Homo sapiens: one gene and its partners. The protein of the gene in region 1 purifies or fractionates together with the protein of each later gene. This does not show direct contact. Each region holds a gene or a part of one and is shown on either strand. Other genes may lie near its edges.

Region 1 (7,033 bases):
AAGGTCCTGATCTTGGAAGGACCAACTTCCAGGGCAGGCAGTGGGACTCTGAAGAGGAAAGGGGCAAGCTCTTGGCCCTTACCCTGGGCAGGAAAGATCTTGGAGGGAAGATCTGGTAATTTGTAATTCCAAGGAAAACCACGCCTGACAAAGGGGGTGACACAGATCCTGAGAGGGAGGAAGCAGCACTTCTTCCCCTCCCCACCACTGGAGTTCGCCAGGGCTGTGTTTTCTCTACAGTGCTTCTGCCTGATGGTCTAGGGAAGGGAGGCTTTTATAATAAGGGGATTCAATATACGGGAAGGGGCACTAGAGCACTGAAGCTCTTTGGATTTCTGAGAGCTCTGGTTTGGCTAGCCTAAAATTAGCATCTATCTTACAGTTTTTACCCCAACTAGCCTGGCTCTGTGTCTACTGAAAACCTATACATGTTGGCATGGCACAGGTTCAGCTGTCATTGCTCTCTGTATGTGTGTGTGTGTGTGTGTGTGTGTGTGTGTGTGTGTGTGTGTGCGTGCATGTGTGCCCGAGTGTGTGAGAGGGAGGAGCAGGGGAGGGAGAGAGAGAAGGAAAACCTATGGAAAAAGTTACCTTTCTTCTTTCCTCTGCAGCCTCCAGTTTCTTCTGGATCTCCTCCAGGGACAGGTCTTTCTTCTTTGGAGAAGCTAAAGTTCGTGGGGCTTCTGAGATAGGAGATGGTGGCTTCAAGATCAGCTCAAAAGCCTGGCCAGAGGCACGTTTGTTGATTTGCTTCACTTCCATATCTGAAAAGTGAACATTTGAGAATGTTAAGCATACAAAGCTTGCAGCATGGGTTTATTTTAATAATTTAGATTCCAGCAATTGGAAGTAGCGTTGTTATTCCGGGAGATAGGAATAAAATGCTGTTTATGAGCATTTGCTCTATGTTGTTTAGAACATATAAGACCTCTCTGTCTTTAGTGTAACTATGGATATATTTTAACAGAATAAATATTTACCATATTGAGAAATTTGACAATATCTGCAGGGAGTTGAATAACGGTAAGCATACTTAGATAAAAATAGCCTAAATTGATTTTAAATTAAGCTTTATTTTCCTTTTGAACAAATATGAGCTTTGCATGAAAATCAAGTAGCACAGATTTATTTGTTTGGAAATTATCGTAGCTGTAGGCCCTTTTTGGTTAGACGAGAAACATAACGGAGTTCTTCAGTTCTCACATATAATGAGATATCATTATCTAGATATGCGTATATATGCATGCACCATTATATATATTATCACCATTCCTGTGCTTAGGAATCACAGGAGCTTCGTTAGAACCAATGTAACTCCCTGAACAGTTGGGCATATTTGGCAAAGTCAATGCTGAAATGCAAAGCATCCTGCTGATTTCTGTTTTGCCCTTCTGTATGTTCATTGCTTCCAGTCATCAATCATGCACAGTGCCCACTCCAGGGATGACAACATCACTCTGTGATGGGGGTCCTTGTCTTCAAGATGCTTACAGTCTAATGGGGGCAATAAGACAACACCCCATTGTAATGTCTTTGCTCCTGTGTTGTTGCTGTTTAGAATATCCTCCTCTAGTGTACTCGGCTGGAGCCAGGAGCCAGGGATAGAGCCACTGTGGTGGAGGAGGGAGTGGCAACATCTACTAATCTAATTTATACACATACACATGGAATACTGTTCAGCCTTAAAAAAGTTGGGGGAAATCCTGTCATTTTTGACAACATGGGTGAACCTGGAGGACACTATGCTAAGTGAAATAAGCTAGGCACAGAAAGACAAATACCACATGATCTCACTTACATGTGGACTATTCATAAAGTTGAACTCACGGAAGCAGAGTAGAATTGTGGTTACCAGGGGTTAGGGGTGGAGACTGGGGAGATGTTGATCAAAGAATACATAATTTCAGTTAAACAGGAAGAACAAATGCAAGAGACTTATTATTGAGACGGAGTTTCCCTCTTTTGCCAGGCTGGAGTGCAGTGGCACTATCTCGACTCACTGCAACCTCCGCCTCCCAGGTTCAAGCAATTCTCCTGCCTCAGCCTCCTGAGTAGCTGGGACTACAGGCGCTTACCACCACACTCAGCTAATTTTTCTATTTTTAGTAGAGGCAAGGTTTCAGCATGTTGGTCAGGCTGGTCTCGAACTCCTGACCTCGTGATCTGCCAGCCTTGGCCTCCCAAAGTGCTGGGATTATAGGCGTGAGCCACCACGCCCGGCCGCAGAAGACTTATTGTACACCATGCTGACTATTGTTAATAACAATGTACTGTATTCTTGAAAATCACTGAAAGAGTAGATTTTTTGTTCTCATCACAAATAAATGACAGGTGTGTGAGGTAATGCATATGTGAATTTGCTTCACTTAGCCATTCTCTAATGTATACATATTTCAAAATATGCCATACACCGCAAACATATACAATTTTTGTCAATTAAAAAAAGAACTGAAGAATGGTTAGCCACTTATTTTCTATCAGTGGCTTATGTATTAAAGATAAGCAGATTATCAGACCCTTATGTTTTAAGCCTGTATAATACAAATTATAACATAAAATAGTATAATTTATAATAGAAAAGATGACAGCTAGCACCTGCTAGGACATTTATAATTACAGAACTCACAATTTAGTAAAATGCAATGATTTTTAAAAGAACCTCGCTGGTCAGCCCTCAATTTCAGATGAGCATTCTTTGAGTCCCAAACTCCATCTCTCTGGTTTTAGCCCACTGATCCTTGTTTGAAGTCTGAAGCTACCCATGATTAGGCCATTCTCTGTGGTGCACCACCATTTTTCAAGTATTTGAAAACAGTTATGTTCCATTTCAAGTTGTTCCCCCAGGCTAAACATCTTCAAGTGCCCCAGAATGACACTGTTTCTAGATCTTTACCACCATATTATTTCCTAACCTCTAAGTGCTCTCTAATTTATTAACGTCTTTTTAAAATTGTGGCAACCAAGCCAGCAGGTTATGTTCCCGTTAATGTTCTTTTAGCAGCCTGGTTAGTGCACATGGAGGTTGTGGTCAAGTAAAATGCCAGGCTGGCAGGCCTTGACCTCAGATCCTTAGCTGCTAATAGATAGTCTAGATAATACTAACTCAATAACTATATTGGAAATGATGTGGGCTTTTTCCTTCACAAATGTAAAAATGTTTTTCATTTTCCTGATGGCATCCAAGATTATACTTAAATTTTAAATACAATTTTATAAAAATTATGGAAACCTATGGATAAGGATTATAAGAGAACACGGGCAAATAAAAACAGCTTATTTGATAAGGTGATGGGGTTTTAAATGCCTTAGATTAGAGGCTCTGGAATTAGAACTGCCTATATTTGCATCCAAATAGTAAGCCCCTCTTAATAGCTGTGTGACACTAGGTAAGTTAATTAACTTCTTTATGCTTTTATTTCCTCATTTAAAAGATGGAAATAAAAAGAGTACCTTCCTTCTAAGGTGGTTGTGAAGATTAAATGATAAAGGATGCTGAATGCAAAGCACAAGCCATATACTTAGTGCTTACAAATGTAAACAATAATAATAATTTATTGTTATAATGTTTGCCTGCAATAAACAAGTCACGTTATTATCTAACATAGAAATACCAGGTCAAGTTAAAGACTGCAGAAATTTGAAATTCTCTACGGACTCTTTTAGGAAGCACAGTTTACGAGAAATGTTGAATTATCTATTCAACTTTAAATACAGCTCAATAAAAATTATGGAAGCCTATGGAAAAGGATTATAAGAGAACGCAGGCAAATAAAAACAGCTTATTTCAAGAATCAGCTCACACATAACTTCACATATTTTCTTCCCCTTTTTTCATTCCCTAACCCAGCAAAAACCATCCCTGGCTCCTTTGTCCTAACCACTCTGTGTTCTACATTCTAGTCATTTGTGTAAGACTCTTCTACTAAGCCCTGAATTCTTTGAAGGTGAGGACTACGCCCTATGGAACTCTGGATCCTCAGTGACAACCCATAGTTCGACATTAGTCTCATAAGAAACATAGCTGGATCCTTCTTCACAGCTACATCTAGCAAATAATAAAGGTCTGTCTAATTTATTTGCTGACCGAATGAATTTGTACAAAGTAGGCATTGGCCCTGCATTCTAATGAATGTTTTGTTTGGAGACAGAATTCCTTTCACATGGAGGACATTTCCTTATGGAACAGTTAATTAGCATTTATGATTTTTGTGCTACGATAGAATAACTTTGGAAGGTAAATGCCTTTGAGTCCTTGAATAGGCTTTAAAGGTGCAGAAGGGGTTAACTGCCACAAGGTCAGTTTGTTTTGTCATTAATGTCTTTCTTTACATATATGGAAAAGAAAAATATTTGTGAGCCTGAGAGTTAGTAAAATATGCCTTAGGGATATCTAGGATACATAGAACTGTATAAAATATTTTAGTTAAATTGACTGAATTAGGTAAGGATGATGTTGATAATGATAGCTATCATTGTAGAGTGATATAATGAGCTAGGCTTGGTTTTGCATATTTGACTTACATTAAACCGTTTAAACCTCACAACAACTCCAAGAGGAAGATGCTAGAGTTAAATGAGACTTAGAGAATCCAAGTATCTATTTGACCAAGATCATGTGGATTGTGGCAGAGCCAAAGTAAGCAAAATGAATCAGGATAAATCAAACCTAAAGAGTTGCACCTCAATCATGTTAATTGCCATGCTAATTCTTTAGGCTTTTCTTTTCAGACCCTCTTTATCTAGGGCCTCAGTCGTAAGTCAGTTTTATTTATTGAGCCAATTATTATTATCATTAGCTGGTTGACATGTATATACAAAGTATAGAAACTTTATAAAGACTACAATAAAGCAAAAACAATTATGGTTGTTGATTCTTTCTCTTGAGTTTTCTAAGTATAAAGCATTTTCTTACAAATTATGATCTACTCCAATTATGGCTTAGCCTATTAAATTATTTGCAAAGAAAGACCTTAGACATATTGTGGATGTTGATATGCTGGATGTGGCTGTTAATAAGAATCCATCCACATTTCTTAACAGACATTGATGTGTTGTTATTAGCACCAAATTCAAACTGTTTTCAGCAATAGGTAATCAATTGGACATAATAGCTAGACACGGCAAGTCAATAGTGAGAGCTACAAAATATTGATGTAATTATATCAGGAGCTGTAAGAAACAAATATATGTCAACCTTTCCAAATGATCTAGCTAGCAGGGGTATGTCTATCCTAGGTTACTCACCATCGTAAGTATAGATGTTGATGTTGCGAGGTTCCGGGTAAAAGCAAGAGCAGATCAGTGACAGCATGGACAGCTCCTTCATTTTTTCCTTGTAGGCTGAAATGAAAAGCTGAAGATTAGTATATTTCATTTTTTCTGAATTTCTCTTTACTGCTTCCTTTAATTTGAATAATAATTATTGCCTCCTGCAGAGTGAATATTGCCAGGTAGACTCCTTTGCATTCTTTCACTAAATATAAAGGAATGCAAGATGTCAACAGAATTCTGAAGTGCATGTTCCTTAGTGCAGAGGAGATCAATTGCATAGTATAGCAGGTTAAATAACAAGAGAAAGAAAGGGAGTTAGAAAAACAAAGGAAGGTCGAAGGAATTAAGATCTAGCAGGATAGGAGGGAGAGAGAGGAAACAGATGGAATTAGTGGAAGCAGACATGATTACCAGAGAGAGAGGCTCATTCTAGTAAATGTGCATGCAGGTCTATTGTACATAAGTAAGATTCCGGAGGGCTACTCTGATGGTTCAGCCTGAATTGCCACGTACTCATTTGGGAATAGTCAGATAACTCATCAGGATAGTTATTAAGCAAACACATTATCCAGGGTCCTATGTTGCTGCTTTCTCTTAATCTCCAAGTGCATTTTCTTATCTGTCCATCTTTTCTTTTTTCTTTCCTCTCTCTCTTTGAGACAGAGTTGCTCTGTTACCCAGGCTGTAGTGCAGTGGTGTGATCCCAGCTCACTGCAACCTCCACCTCCTGGGCTCAAGTGATGTTCCCCCCTCAGCCTCCCCATTAGCTGGGACTACAGGTGCGCTCCACCATGCCTGGATAATTTTTGTATTTTTTGTACAGACAGAGTTTCACCAGGTTTCTCAGGCTGGTCTTGAATTCCCGGGCTCAAGCAATCCACCCACCTTGGCCACCCAAAGTGCTGGGATTACAGGTGTGAGCCTCTATTTCCAGCCTCTTTCTTTCTTTCTTTTTTTTTTAATTTCAAGTTTTATTTTAGATACAAGGGGTATATGTGCAGTCTTTTTACATGGGAATATTAAATGATGCTGATGTTTGGGGTGTAAATCCCATCACCCAGGTATTGAGCATAGCACCTGATAGGTAGTTTTACAAACCTCTCTCCTTCCCCCCTCTAGTAGTCCACAGTGTTTATTGTTCTCATATTTATGTCCATGTGTGCTCAGTGTTTAGCTCCCACTTATAAGTGAGAACATGCTGTATTTGGTTTTCTGTTCCTGTGTTAATTCACTTAGGATTATGGGTCCCAACTGCATCCATGTTGCAGCAAAGGACATGATTTCATTTTTTCTTATGGCCATGTTGTATTGCATGCTTTATATTTACCCCATTTTCTTTATCCAATCTGCCATAGATGGACACCTAGTTTGATTCCATGTCTTAGCTATTGTGAATAGTGCTGCCATGAACATACAAGCACATGTGTCTTTTTAATAGAATGATTTATTCTCCTTTGGGTATACACCAAGTAATGGGATTGCAAGGTCAAATGGCAGCTCTGTTTTAAGTTCTTTGTCTCTCCCTCTTTCTACACACACCAAAGCCCTCGATCTGAGCTCTGATTACATCTGATAAGGATCTCCTTCCCTCCGTTGCAACCCAGCTTGTGTGCCAACCTTGCCATGCAGTTGCAAGAGTCCAGATTGTCACCTCCTCAATCCTTCACTCCCCTTCCCCATTTCATTTTCTCATTTTTTCTCTAGGAAGCCTCCTGCCCTGGTAAACTTGGTGAGTATCTCATCACTGTCAGTTGTCATCAGG
Region 2 (7,033 bases), on another chromosome or scaffold:
GCACTAGCTAAGTGTAAAATCACCAAGCCCTCCCCTAAGTATCCCATGTTCCATGGACAGTGAAGCTCTGCAGGTGGGAAGCAGCCATCATGCAGAATAGACCAGGTGACCTGGAAAAGCATTCTCTACACCAAGGAAGTCTATGAATCTCTAAGAGTCAATATTCTAAGCAGTACTTAGTTTACCTTCACATCTAAAAATATTAAAAACCTTGAGTTATGAACACTGAAACTCTCATTTCTTTTTGGCTACAATCTACAATGCAAACAATATTCAGTTAGGTTCTTCCAAAGTATGATGGCTTCAAAAAAAAATTCAGTTATGCTGTCATTTACTGCAGCTGGGGCCCAGGCTCCTGCTCTCCTATTCTCTAGAATTCTGAGAGCTCTCAAGAAGGTCAATCATTCATTACAAAGTTCCCTGTAAAAACACACAGATTATAATAAAATGCTATTGTGATTTCCATTTTCAAACAAGTGTGAGAACAAATTTTCAGAAATTTCTCTGGTCTTACAGATATACTCAAATACAAAGAAGAATATAAGTGCTGCAGTAAATTTGTCAATTTTATGAAGTCCAGCAGCCGTATTTTAGATTAAGAAATAGTCCTGTGGAAACAGTGCCCCTTAAAACTGAAATCATATTAAATTTCTAACCAAAGTGCTTCTATATTTCATAATATTGTGATCAAATACATTCTCCAGAAGTAATGATCCAGCAATCTGCTAAATGAACAGGCCAAAATTTCCATGTAAATAAAATAAAATCTATCAATGACTTCAAATATAAGCTCTTAGTCATTTCTGTCTTCTTGAGATATGCCTTGAAACTGCTGCTTTGGATTTTCAATGTGATTTTTGTCTCTTCTTGAGACATTAAAAATCCAGGCCGGGTGCGGTGGCTCACACCTGTAATCCCAACACTTTGGGAGTCCAAGGTGGGCAGATCACGAGGTCAGGAGTTCTAGACCAGCCTGGCCAACATAGTAAAACCCCATCTCTACCAAAAATACAAAAATTAGCTGGGTGTGGTGGCACACACCTGTAGTCCCAGCTACTCGGGAGGCTGAGGCAGGAGAATCGCTTGAACCTGGGAGGTGGAGGTTGCAGTGAGCCAAGACCACACCACTGCACTCCAGCCTGGGTGACACAGTGACAATCCGTCTCAAAAAAAAAAAAAAATCCAAATCAACAGTTTCAAGGCATATTTTTTTCTGCCTCACTAGTGAGTTCCTCCAATAGGGATGCTATACAAAGCTAATTAAATTCTTATTTAAACCTGCTTAGGGGGCGGGGAGCATAGTTCAAAATAAATAGTCTCTTCTTGACCATGCACTCACTTAGCTACTAGGTAGCTTACAGCTACCATATTCCTCTTCCCCTCTACAAACACACCCTCTCCAGCATTCTTCTGAAGCATGGTTACTCATGGGTCTACAGCCCAGTGCCAGTCTGCAACTGTTAATGGCATTTAATGAAATGAGTACAGGGTTTGAGACTAAGTGCATTACAGCAATTAAGAGTTCATTTTTATATATATATATATATATATATATATATTTTTTTTTTTTTTTAGATGGAGTACCATTCTGTTGCCAGGCTTGAGTGCAGTGGCACAATCTCGGCTCACTGCAACCTCCAACTCCCTGGTTCAAGCGATCCTCCTGCCTCAGCCTCCCAAGTAGCCTTTTTTCCCTAGCTTATCTATCAGAACAAAGTAAGTATTTTCAGTTTAGAGGTGGTTTTGTTTTGGTTTTTTTGTTTGTTTGTTGAGATGGAGTTTCACTGTTGCCCAGGCTGGAGTGCAATGGCACGATCTCAGCTCACTGCAACTTCCGCCTCATGGGTTCAAGCGATTCTCCTGCCTCAGCCTCCCGAGTAGCTGGGATTACAGGCATGCGCCACCATGCCCGGCTAATTTTGCACTTTTAGTAGAGACAGGGTTTCACCACATTGGCCAGGCTAGTCTCAGACTCCTCTCAGGTGATCCACCCACCTCGGCCTCCCGAAGTCCTGGGATTACAGGCGTGAGCCACCATATCTGGCCTTGTTTTGGTTTTTTTCAGAGATGGGGGGTCTTATTATGTTGCACAGGCTGGTCTCAAACCCCCAGGCTCAAGCAATCCTCCTGCCTCAGCCTCTCGAGCAGCTGGGACTACAGGCCTGAGCCACCATGCCTGTCTTCAAGTATTTTTAAATCATTATTTGGATTTTCCCATCATGTTAACAACTTTCCCTACCTAGCCAATTTCACCTCTGATCTTCCCAGGGCCTTTATCTAGAACACTCCTGCGTCCTCTCTTCCCATGGTTCCCTCTTCCTCATCCTTTAGGCCTCAACTTCAATGTCCTGTTCCACCCTACCTAAAGGAAATGACCTGTCATTCTCTATGTCAAGGTTCTTGCCTTCTTAGAAGTTAATACAATTCATTACTATTACTATTTTCTTTATGCCCATCAACTTGTCTTTCCGGGTGTCTCCCTCATTAGAATGTGGACCCTGTATGGGTAGAGACCATGTACATCTTGTTCACATTCTATCTCTGAGCCTAGCATAGTGCCTGGTACAAAACAGGTACTCAATAATATTTGCTTAATGAATTATCTAAAATAAGATGTCTTTTTCACATCCCTTCAGAAATAAAGACCCTATGTAAATATTTCAATTAGCCATTCAAACTACCATTTTGTGAAATTACAAAGAATCCCATCTCTCACAACACAACCCCAGTCCCAGAAACTCGCTATTACATGGATGACTCTGTGCTGACAACAGGTAGGCGGAGGGAGGAGGTGAGGATGGATGAGGGGGGCATTTCAGAAATGAATGGCCATGAAATGATAAAGGAGTGTGAAATAAGCTATGTTCACCTAGATGTGCAACCCAATAATTTAGCTACTATGTGCCTCAAGAAAACAATGCATGATTTAGCTACCTTAAGGTGTAAGGTTCTGTGAGGCTCAAAAGGGTAACAAACGTGAATCCTGGGTTAGGTTTCCAGAGCACCATGCTGTGACATTTCTAAACTTAGCACAGCTACAATTTTACTTTCACTTGTGGGACTATATGGTTGATGTCTGTCTCCACTAGACCTGTTTTTTTTTTATCACCCTTGCATTCTCACTGTCTAAAAGTACCTGGCTGGTAGAAGGTCCTCAATTTTATTTGTAAAATGAATGAATCAAAGCAGTTTGTAAATAGTAAAGCTATGTACACATAAGCATTAACATCAGACATTTCAGAAATTAATTAATTCAACAAGTATTTAGTGAATGCCTTTAACTATGTGCCAGCCACTATTCTAAGGCACTCAGAATGCATAACTGGACAAAACAGAAAAGATCACTGCAGCTGACACTCTAGGAAGACAGGTAATGAAAATAAACACAGTAAGTATATTTGGAGGTGATAAATGATATGGAAAAAAGAGCAAGGGGTGAGGGGTAGGACGGACACAAATAAACGGTCCTCCTAAGGTGGTTGCAGGGAGAAACAGCCAAAAGCCCATTGTGCTTTGTGCCAAGTAAGCAAGGCAGAGCTCCCACCTGCTTTCAGCGAAAGTGGAGGTCAGAGAGGGGCAGTGACAGCCAAAGAATATAGGGTCTCATAGGTCAAGATTTCTATTTCGATGTAATTAACTTTCTAATTAAACTGATATGGTAAATAGTTTAGAGTTGCCTCAATTCTTATACCTTACATCAATAACATAAAAGATCAGAATCACATGCCAACAGTTCCCATCCACGGACTGATCTACACTTGAGGCCATTCTCTTCACTTGGTGGTCTCAAAGACTAAATAATTTTTTTTTAATGCAAAGGCAGTCAGCCTGTAATCCCAGTGCTTTGAGAGACCAAGATGGGGGACTGCTTGAGGCCAGGAGTTCTAGATCAGCCTGGGCAACACAGTAAGACCACGTCTACAAAAAATTTAAACATTAGGCGGGGTGCAGTGGTTCACGCCTGTAATCCCAGCACTTTGGGAGGCCAAGGCGGGTGGATCACTTGATGACCAGCCTGGCCAACATGGTGAAACCCTGTCTTCACTAAAAATACAAAAAAATTAGCTGGGTGTGGTGGCAGGTGCCTGTAATCCCAGCTAATTGGGAGGCTGAGGGAGGAGAATCACTTGAACCTGGGAGGAGGAGGTTGCAGTGAGCCAGGATCTATGCTACTGCACTCCAGCCTGGGTGACAACTAACATAGGCAAATGCAGTAGCACAGTTATTTTGAGAAAAGGAGGCCGGGCATGGTGGCTCACGCCTGTAATCCCAGCACTTTGGGAGGCCGAGGTGGTAGATCACCTGAGGTCGGGAGTTCGAGACCAGCCTGACCAACATGGAGAAACCCCATCTCTGCTAAAAATTAGCCGGGCATGGTGGTGCATGCCTATAATCCCAGCTGCTCAGGAGGCTGAGGCAGGAGAATCGCTTGAACCCAGGAGGCAGAGGTTGTGGTGAGAGGAGGTTGCACCATTGTACTCCAGCCTGGGCAAGAACAGCAAAACTCCGCCTCAGAAAAAAAAAAAAAAAGCCGGGCGCGGTGGCTCACACCTGTAATCCTAGCACTTTGGGAGGCCGAGGCAGGCGGATCACAAGGTCAGGAGATCGAGACCATCCTGGCTAACACGGTGAAACCCCATCTCTACTAATAAATAATAAATAAATAAATAAATAAATAAATAGCCAGGCGTAGTGGCAGGCTCCTGTAGTCCCAGCTACTCGGGAGGCTGAGGCAGGAGAATGGTGTGAACCCAGGAGGCGGAGCTTGCAGTGAGCTGAGATTGCGCCACTGCACTCTAGCCTGGTCGACGGAGCGAGACTCCATCTCAAAAAAGAAAGAAAGAAAGAAAGAAAATGCTGGGGCAGTGGCTCACGCCTGTAATCTCAGCACTTTGGGAGGCCAAGGCGGGTGGATCACCTGAGGTCAGGAGTTTGAGACCAGCCTGGCCAACATGGTGAAACCCTGTCTCTACTAAAAATACAAAAATTAGCCAGGCATGGTGTTGGGCGCCTGTAATCCCAGCTATTCGGGAGGCTGAGGCAGAAGAATTGCTTGAACCCAGGAGACAGAGGTTGCAGTGACCGGAGATCATGCCATTGTACTCCAGCCTGGGCAACAGAGCAAGAATCCATAGCAACAACAACAAAAAATTAGCCAGGTATGGTGGTACATGCCTGTAGTCTCAGCTACTTGGAAAGCTGAGGCAGGAGGACTGCTTTGAGTCCAGGAGTTCAAGGTTACAGTGAGCTATCATCATACCAATGAACTCCAGCCTGGGTGACAGAGTGAGACCCTGTCTCCCTGTCTCTGGAATAAAATAAAAATAATGCAAATTCCCTGGGATATTCCCAAAACAAACCAAGGTCTCAAGGCTCTTCAAACTAAGAATGTCCTAGGTCAGGCTTGCCTTCTCAAGACAAAACTGAACAAGTTACCAGATGGCATTTTGAGGGAAAGGTATTAGCTAGACAGACTCAAAGATTTTAACACTATGAAGTCTCATAAACCACACAACCCTCAGAGAAGTCTGGAGGAAAACAAAGCATCATTAGAAAATCGGAGGAAAACAAAACATCATTAGAAAATCCATGGTCCATGCAGCTTGACTGCTTTCTGGTACCTCCATTATAAATCCTGGCCAGGCGCAGTGGCCCACACCTGTAATCCCAGCACTTTGGGAGGCTGGGGCGGGTGGATCACCTGAGGTCAGGAGTTCAAGGCCAGCCCAACCAACATGGTGAAACTCTGTCTCTAATAAACACACAAAAAACAGCCAGGCATGGTGGCGCATGCCTGTAATCCCAGCTACTTGGGAGGATGAGACAGTAGAATCGCTTGAACCTGGGAGGAAGAGGTTGCAGTGAGCCAAGATTGCGCCATTGCACTCCAGTCTGGGCAACAAGAGTGAAAACTTCATCTCAAAAAACAAAAAACAAAACAAAACAAAAGTTTCTTCTCCTGCAATCATAAGGCTTCTTTTGTCCTAATAAACGACCATCTCGGACAAATCTTAATGTGAAAATTTTAATTGGGCCAAAGGTACAAAGCTACTTTATATTTATTACACCAAAACCATAATTTTTTTTTTTAATTTCGAGACAGTCTGTGTTACCCAGGCTGGAGTGCAGTGATGCAATCACAGCTCACGGCAGCCTTGACCTCCTGGGCCCAAGCAATCTTCCTCAGCCTCCCAAGTAACTGGGACTACAGGCATGTGCCATCATGCCCGGCTATTTTTTTTTGGTAGAGGCAGGGTTTCCCTATGTTACCCAGGCTAGTCTGGAACTCCTGGACTCAAAGGATCCTGAGGCCTCAGCTTCCCAAAATGTTAGGATTACAGGTGTGAGCTACCACAGACAATTTAGCCTAGTCCAGAATTTTTTTTTTGAGACAGTCTCACTCTGTCACCCAGGCTGGAGGGCAGTGGCGCGATCTCGGCTCACTGCAAGCTCCACCCCCCAGGTTCACCCCATTCTCCTGCCCCAGCCTCCCAAGTAGCTGAGACTACAGGTGCACACCACCATGCCCGGCTAATTTTTTTTGTATTTTTAGTAGAGACGGGGTTTCACTATGTTAGCCAGGATGGTCTCGATCTCCTGACCCCGTGATCCGCCTGCCTTGGCCTCCCAAAGTGCTAGGATTACAGGCGTGAGCCACCGTGCCCAGCCAGCCTAGTCCAGAATTTTACAAATTCCCTTCAATTTTTTTTTTTTTTTGAGACGGAGTTTCACTCTTGTTGCCCAGGCTGGAGTGCAATGGCGTGATCTTGGCTCACTGCCACCTATGCCTCCCAGGTTCAAGCAATTCTCCTGCCTCAGCCTCCCAAGTGGCTGGGATTACAGGCATGCACCAACACACTCAGCTAATTTTGTATTTTTAGTAGAGATGGGGTTTCTCCATGTTGGTCAGGCTGGTCTCAAACTCCCAACCTCAGGTGATCCGCCCGCCTCGACCTCCCAAAGTGCTGGGATTACAGGCGTGAGCCACCGCACCCGCCCAGCCAATTCCTTTCAATATTATGTTCCCTAGCTT
Region 3 (4,675 bases), on another chromosome or scaffold:
CTCGGGCCAGGCCTGGGCAACCTCCTTCTTTTCCCTGGGTTTGGCTCCACTCTGTCCTCTTGTAAGAAGCCTCCCAGACACATGGGGACATCGTGCTGGCTCCTCCCCCTCTCCCCAAAGCACTGTGGCCCAGCGGACTCCAAGCTTCCCTGATCCGCCTGCCCACTCCCATCCACTGGCAGGAGGCACCTCCTCCGCTGCCTTCTCCCTGATGGTGGCACAGAGTTGTAATCTTCTATTTGCCATCTGTCTCCCCCATCAGGCTGAGCCATCTTAGGCAGGCACCCTGTTGGTCTGGTTGCCAGCTGTGTCCTCAGTGGGCACAGGGATGTGAAGAGAACACATAGGAAACAGGTACTCCAGCTCAGTCCCCTGCCACCTGTCCCCAGCCTGCAGCCCTTTAACCCACCAAACGCACCCCTCCCTACCACAGAACTACCTACACTGCAGCCCCCCTGCCAGGGGTGGCTCAAGCCCTGCTCCAGAGCCTGGAAGCCAGGCTAGCAATCCCCTCCACAAAAAAAGACGCTCTGTTTTCCATTTTGCACAAAAATGTATTTCTGTGACTTCCCAAAGTACAGACATTTCCCCAGGCCCCAGGGGGTAAAGCAATGAGGTGTGAAGTCTGCCAGGGTCTGGCCGGGGCCGCTGAGCGTGGGAAGGAAGGGAGCGCCGCATGCAGCCCATCTGCCAAGCTGGGGGAACACAGGGCTGCGCCCACTTCCCAGGGCCGGGAGGGAGAGGCTCCAGGAGAAAAAGGCCAGGTGTCTCTCCCAAAGCTGCTCACCCCTGCCGTCCTGCCTGGAGGCAGAAATGCTAGGAACACCTGAAAACAGGCCCGCGGGAGGAAAAGGGAAGAAAAAGCCATCACCCAAAGGCTGCCTCCAGGGTTAGCGCTGCTCCCCAGGCCCCTGCGCTCCACAAGTGTCCGATGAGAAGCAATGCAGTGTCCATCGATGGAGGAGCAAGAGAGCCGGCGCCTCTCAGGCTTCCAAGGTAAAGCCTAGGGCAGGGCGGGACCGCCAGGGAGGCCCAAGCGGCCACTGCAGGGCAGTCCGAGTGCTGGTCTGGAGGCGGCTGTGTGGCCGTTGTGGGTCAAAGGCTGTCATGGGACCTCTGCCTCTGAGAGGCGTGGGGTCCTCTGGGCAGCGGGGCAGGCTGGGAGGAGGAGGCAGGCTCAGTTCTGCTGGTGGGAGCGCCTGGGCAGTTGAGGGCTATGGAGCGAGGAAGCAAGCCCCTGGCCCCAGAAGATGCTAGCTTCCAGGGCTGAGGGCAGGTTCTGGATGTGTTTGGCAGAAGGGGCAGTGGAATCTGCCCCTGAGTTCTGACCATCCCTGGGCTGGGGCTTTCCACAGCCTGGGACCTGGTGGGAGACTAGGAGGCAGCCTCCATAGCAGCGTGGCCTCAGGCAGGCCTGGCTGGACAGCAGCAGGGCCACTGGGTGCCCTGCTCCTAGAGGGTCTTCAGGGGCAGGGCTGCCTGGACCTCAGCCTAGGAATGGCTCACTTTCCTGCCCCAGATGGCCCACAGCCGGGAGCACCAAGGCTTTTGGGAGACCCAGTGGGGTAAGTTCTAATCCCCAAACCCCATCAGCTGTGCCCGGGAGCCGAGATGGCGTTCTCAGGCAGGGGCAGTGGGTCAGGATGCTCGATACGCTGTCCAAGGCCTGCTCCTCTCATGAAAGGAAGCCAGGCCGGGATCTGAGTTTCCTGGACAAGGACTGGACACTCACAGCGTTATAGGCATTTAGTCTGGTTGGGGTAGGAGTGTGTGTGTCAGCGATGAAGGCTGAGTGGGTTTGAGAATGGCCAAGGAAGCTGCAAGGACTCAGGAGTGTTGCTTTTGTTTTTGCACAGAAATCATACACACAAAACTTCACACTTCCTAACCAAAAAAAAAATATATATATATAATATATATATATCTCACTAACATTAAGGAAAAGCGTCGGTTGTGCAAAAGTCCCCCATGTCTCTTCACTCCGTGGGAGGCTCCCTCGGAAGGGGCCCGCCCGCTGGGCTGCTTGAGCATGCTTCCTCCCCGCCTGTGGTCCAGAGCGGTGGCGGCCATGGGGACGGAGGCCTCTATCTAGACGTGTCCATGTTCTCCTCTTTAAAGTTACTGCAGTGCTCAATCACCTTGCTGGAGACAATGGGGGAGACAGGATTGGAGGGTGGGCTTGGGTGGGGGTGAGCCCAGCCCCTCCGAGATCATTAGGCAGCTGGGTAAACACGTGTTCATAGTGATGGTGATGCTGACCGAATGATGTGGACAGAGGGGCTGGCAGAGTGGCTGGCATGTGCAGGGGACTCAGGGAATGGCACCTGTGGCCGTGAATGCCATCACCAGCCATCCTCCGCTTCCTTCCTTTCCATGCCCCTCTTCTCCCACCCCCAGTCCCAGGGCATCTGTGGATAGGGGGTCCCCAAATCAGCTCAGGCCCGACCTCCAAAACCCTTTGGAAGTTTCTTTAGCGACCTCTTCTTCATTTTCCCTGCACACTAGACCCTTCTCTTTCCAGAAGTCCACCAGTGGTCCCCAAACTGACTGCACATCAGATTCCCCTAGAGGCCCGGATCCAGTGGCAGGTCCAGGGTCGGGCAGGGGCAGCTGTGCTCGCACAAGGGCCCCCACTACCCTGTGGCAGCCAGGGCTCAGCACTCCAGCTCAGATTTCGAGTCTCGCCCGCCCCAGCCTGACCCCTGCCACCCATCACTGTTGGTTGTCACCTTGGACCCCGGACAGCTTGCCCATTCAACACCAAGCCTGTGGTTTGGGGGCTTCACTGCAGCCTCTGTGTGTTAAAGGGATGCCCCAATACCTTTTAGGAAACAAATACCCAGAGTGGGAGAGAGGTCAGTGGACAGGCCGAGGGCCTTCTCCTAAGCATTGTCCAGGGTCATTTACTCCTTGCTGTCAGACAGGCCAGTGCCTCAGATTCCCATCACAGGCCTTGGAGAAATGTTCAAAGTGACTGTGGTAGGTAACTGGTCAGTCTTACCCAGTGCTTCTCAAATTTCCCGGGAATCCTTGTTAACCATGAAAATTCCAGGGCCACCTCCCACCTCCCGGATGTACTGGAAAAGAAAACCTAGGGGTGGGCCCCGTCCATTTATTTTTAAATTTTATTTTTTTGAGACAGAGTCTCGCTCTGTTGACCAGGCTGGAGTGCAGTGGCACCATCTCGGCTCACTGCAACCTCTGCCTCCTGGATTCAAGTGATTCTCCTGCCTCAGCCTCCCAAGTGGCTGGGATTACAGGCACGTACCACCACGCCGAGCTAATTTTTGTATTTTTAGTAGAGACGGGGTTTTACCATGTTAGCCAGGTCTCGAACTCCTGACCTCAAGTGATGCACCCACCTCAGCCTCCCAAAGTGCTAGGATTACAGGTGTGAGCCACTTCGCCTGGCCAGTAGCGCCTTTGGCCAGATATAATAGCAGAACCAGCTGACACTTCCCTCCCCTGGCCCAGGAAGTGGCTGGCTGAGGAGCCTCTGAGTTTCAGGCCCCTCCTCCATGTGAACTTTTGCTCTATACAGAGCCATGAAAAAGTGTGCTCGGGTCAGCTTGACTGTTCTCCCTTCTAGAATGAATCCTGGAGAAAACAAGGTCGTTCGACGATTTCGACACGTCGCATCCCTGAGAGTCTCTCGTGTCCTGATCAACTCGAGAACTGGAGGCGGTGACATTTTAGATGCTGCAGTGAAAGCCACAGAGCCACGGAAGGCCGAGACTCCACCATGTTTGTGATCTTCACATTCAGCAAACTCACTCGCACTCTGCCTCATCTTATCTCTAGAATGTATTTTACCACACTGTGTCCCTTCTTTAGTGGGAATGTCTTTGGCCAAAAATAATGAATAGTTCTGACCTGACTTGCTAATACCCAGTGATAAAAGGATGGAATTTGTTGGGAATAAAAGAAAACTAAGCTTACAAACGAGGGCCCTGATGCTCCGTTCCGAGCTTGGTCATCTAATTTCCAGCCACAATGTGGTCGAGATGACATTTGGAGAGGCCCCAGGTGGACATCAATACACTGTCAACCTCCATACTCAACTCTAAGCTGTCCCTGGGAATTTCAGCCATTCCTAACCTCCAGAGGGCGCCCGCTATGCCCTTACTCCCCTAAACCAAGGTTCCAGGCAGAAACACACTGCTGGTCTCTTACCGGGCCATTTCCTTGGTCTCCTGCCGTGCGGTCGCCATCTTAATTATGTCCCTCAGAAGGGGCATCCCCCCTTCTTTGATCAGCAGAGGGCAGTACTTGTCCGCTGTGGGATAGGAGCAGACAGCAGAGGATCAGGATGGGTCTTCTTATCAGCCCGAGGCCCAGAAACCCACCCTGTCTGTGAGGACTATCCTGGTGTCGGGGGTGTGAAGGCACAGCCCTTGGTGGGGGCAGTGCTAGAAATGGGGGCAAGACGTGGGCCCAGCCCCATGGGTGGGAGTTCTGCGTCCATGTAGGGGAGGCAAGAGGTGACTCCTTGGTTTGAAGTTGCTGCATTTATTTCCAGAGCTCATTCTTTTTTTTAAAAAAAAATTATATATATATATATATAAAATATATAATCTTAAAATATATATATATATGGCCGGGCACGGTGGCTCACGCCTGTAATCCCAGCACTTTGGGAGGCCGAGACGGGCGGATCACGAGGTCAGGAGATCGA

The links. Proteins that work in one complex are often made in the same cells at the same time.
Region 2: the proteins of STMN2 (region 1) and MTA3 purify together in Homo sapiens (co-immunoprecipitation; 2 studies listed by BioGRID and IntAct, with this or other methods). This does not show direct contact.
Region 3: the proteins of STMN2 (region 1) and ZER1 purify together in Homo sapiens (co-immunoprecipitation; 2 studies listed by BioGRID and IntAct, with this or other methods). This does not show direct contact.

What each region holds. Positions count from the first base shown.
Region 1 is NC_000008.11:79,635,109-79,642,141, reverse strand, and holds part of STMN2 (stathmin-2), read right to left. Parts: exon of another isoform or gene 6,976-7,033; intron 5,341-6,975; coding exon 5,245-5,340; intron 4,062-5,244; exon of another isoform or gene 3,976-4,061; intron 765-3,975; coding exon 592-764; intron 1-591. UniProt on the Homo sapiens protein: Regulator of microtubule stability. When phosphorylated by MAPK8, stabilizes microtubules and consequently controls neurite length in cortical neurons.
Region 2 is NC_000002.12:42,571,632-42,578,664, reverse strand, and holds part of MTA3 (metastasis-associated protein MTA3), read right to left. Parts: intron 1-7,033. UniProt on the Homo sapiens protein: Acts as a component of the histone deacetylase NuRD complex which participates in the remodeling of chromatin.
Region 3 is NC_000009.12:128,729,253-128,733,927, forward strand, and holds the end of ZER1 (protein zer-1 homolog), read right to left. Parts: intron 4,277-4,675; coding exon 4,174-4,276; intron 3,992-4,173; exon of another isoform or gene 3,590-3,991; intron 2,143-3,589; coding exon 2,085-2,142; 3' UTR 534-2,084; downstream 1-533. UniProt on the Homo sapiens protein: Serves as substrate adapter subunit in the E3 ubiquitin ligase complex ZYG11B-CUL2-Elongin BC. Acts to target substrates bearing N-terminal degrons for proteasomal degradation with the first four residues of substrates being the key recognition elements.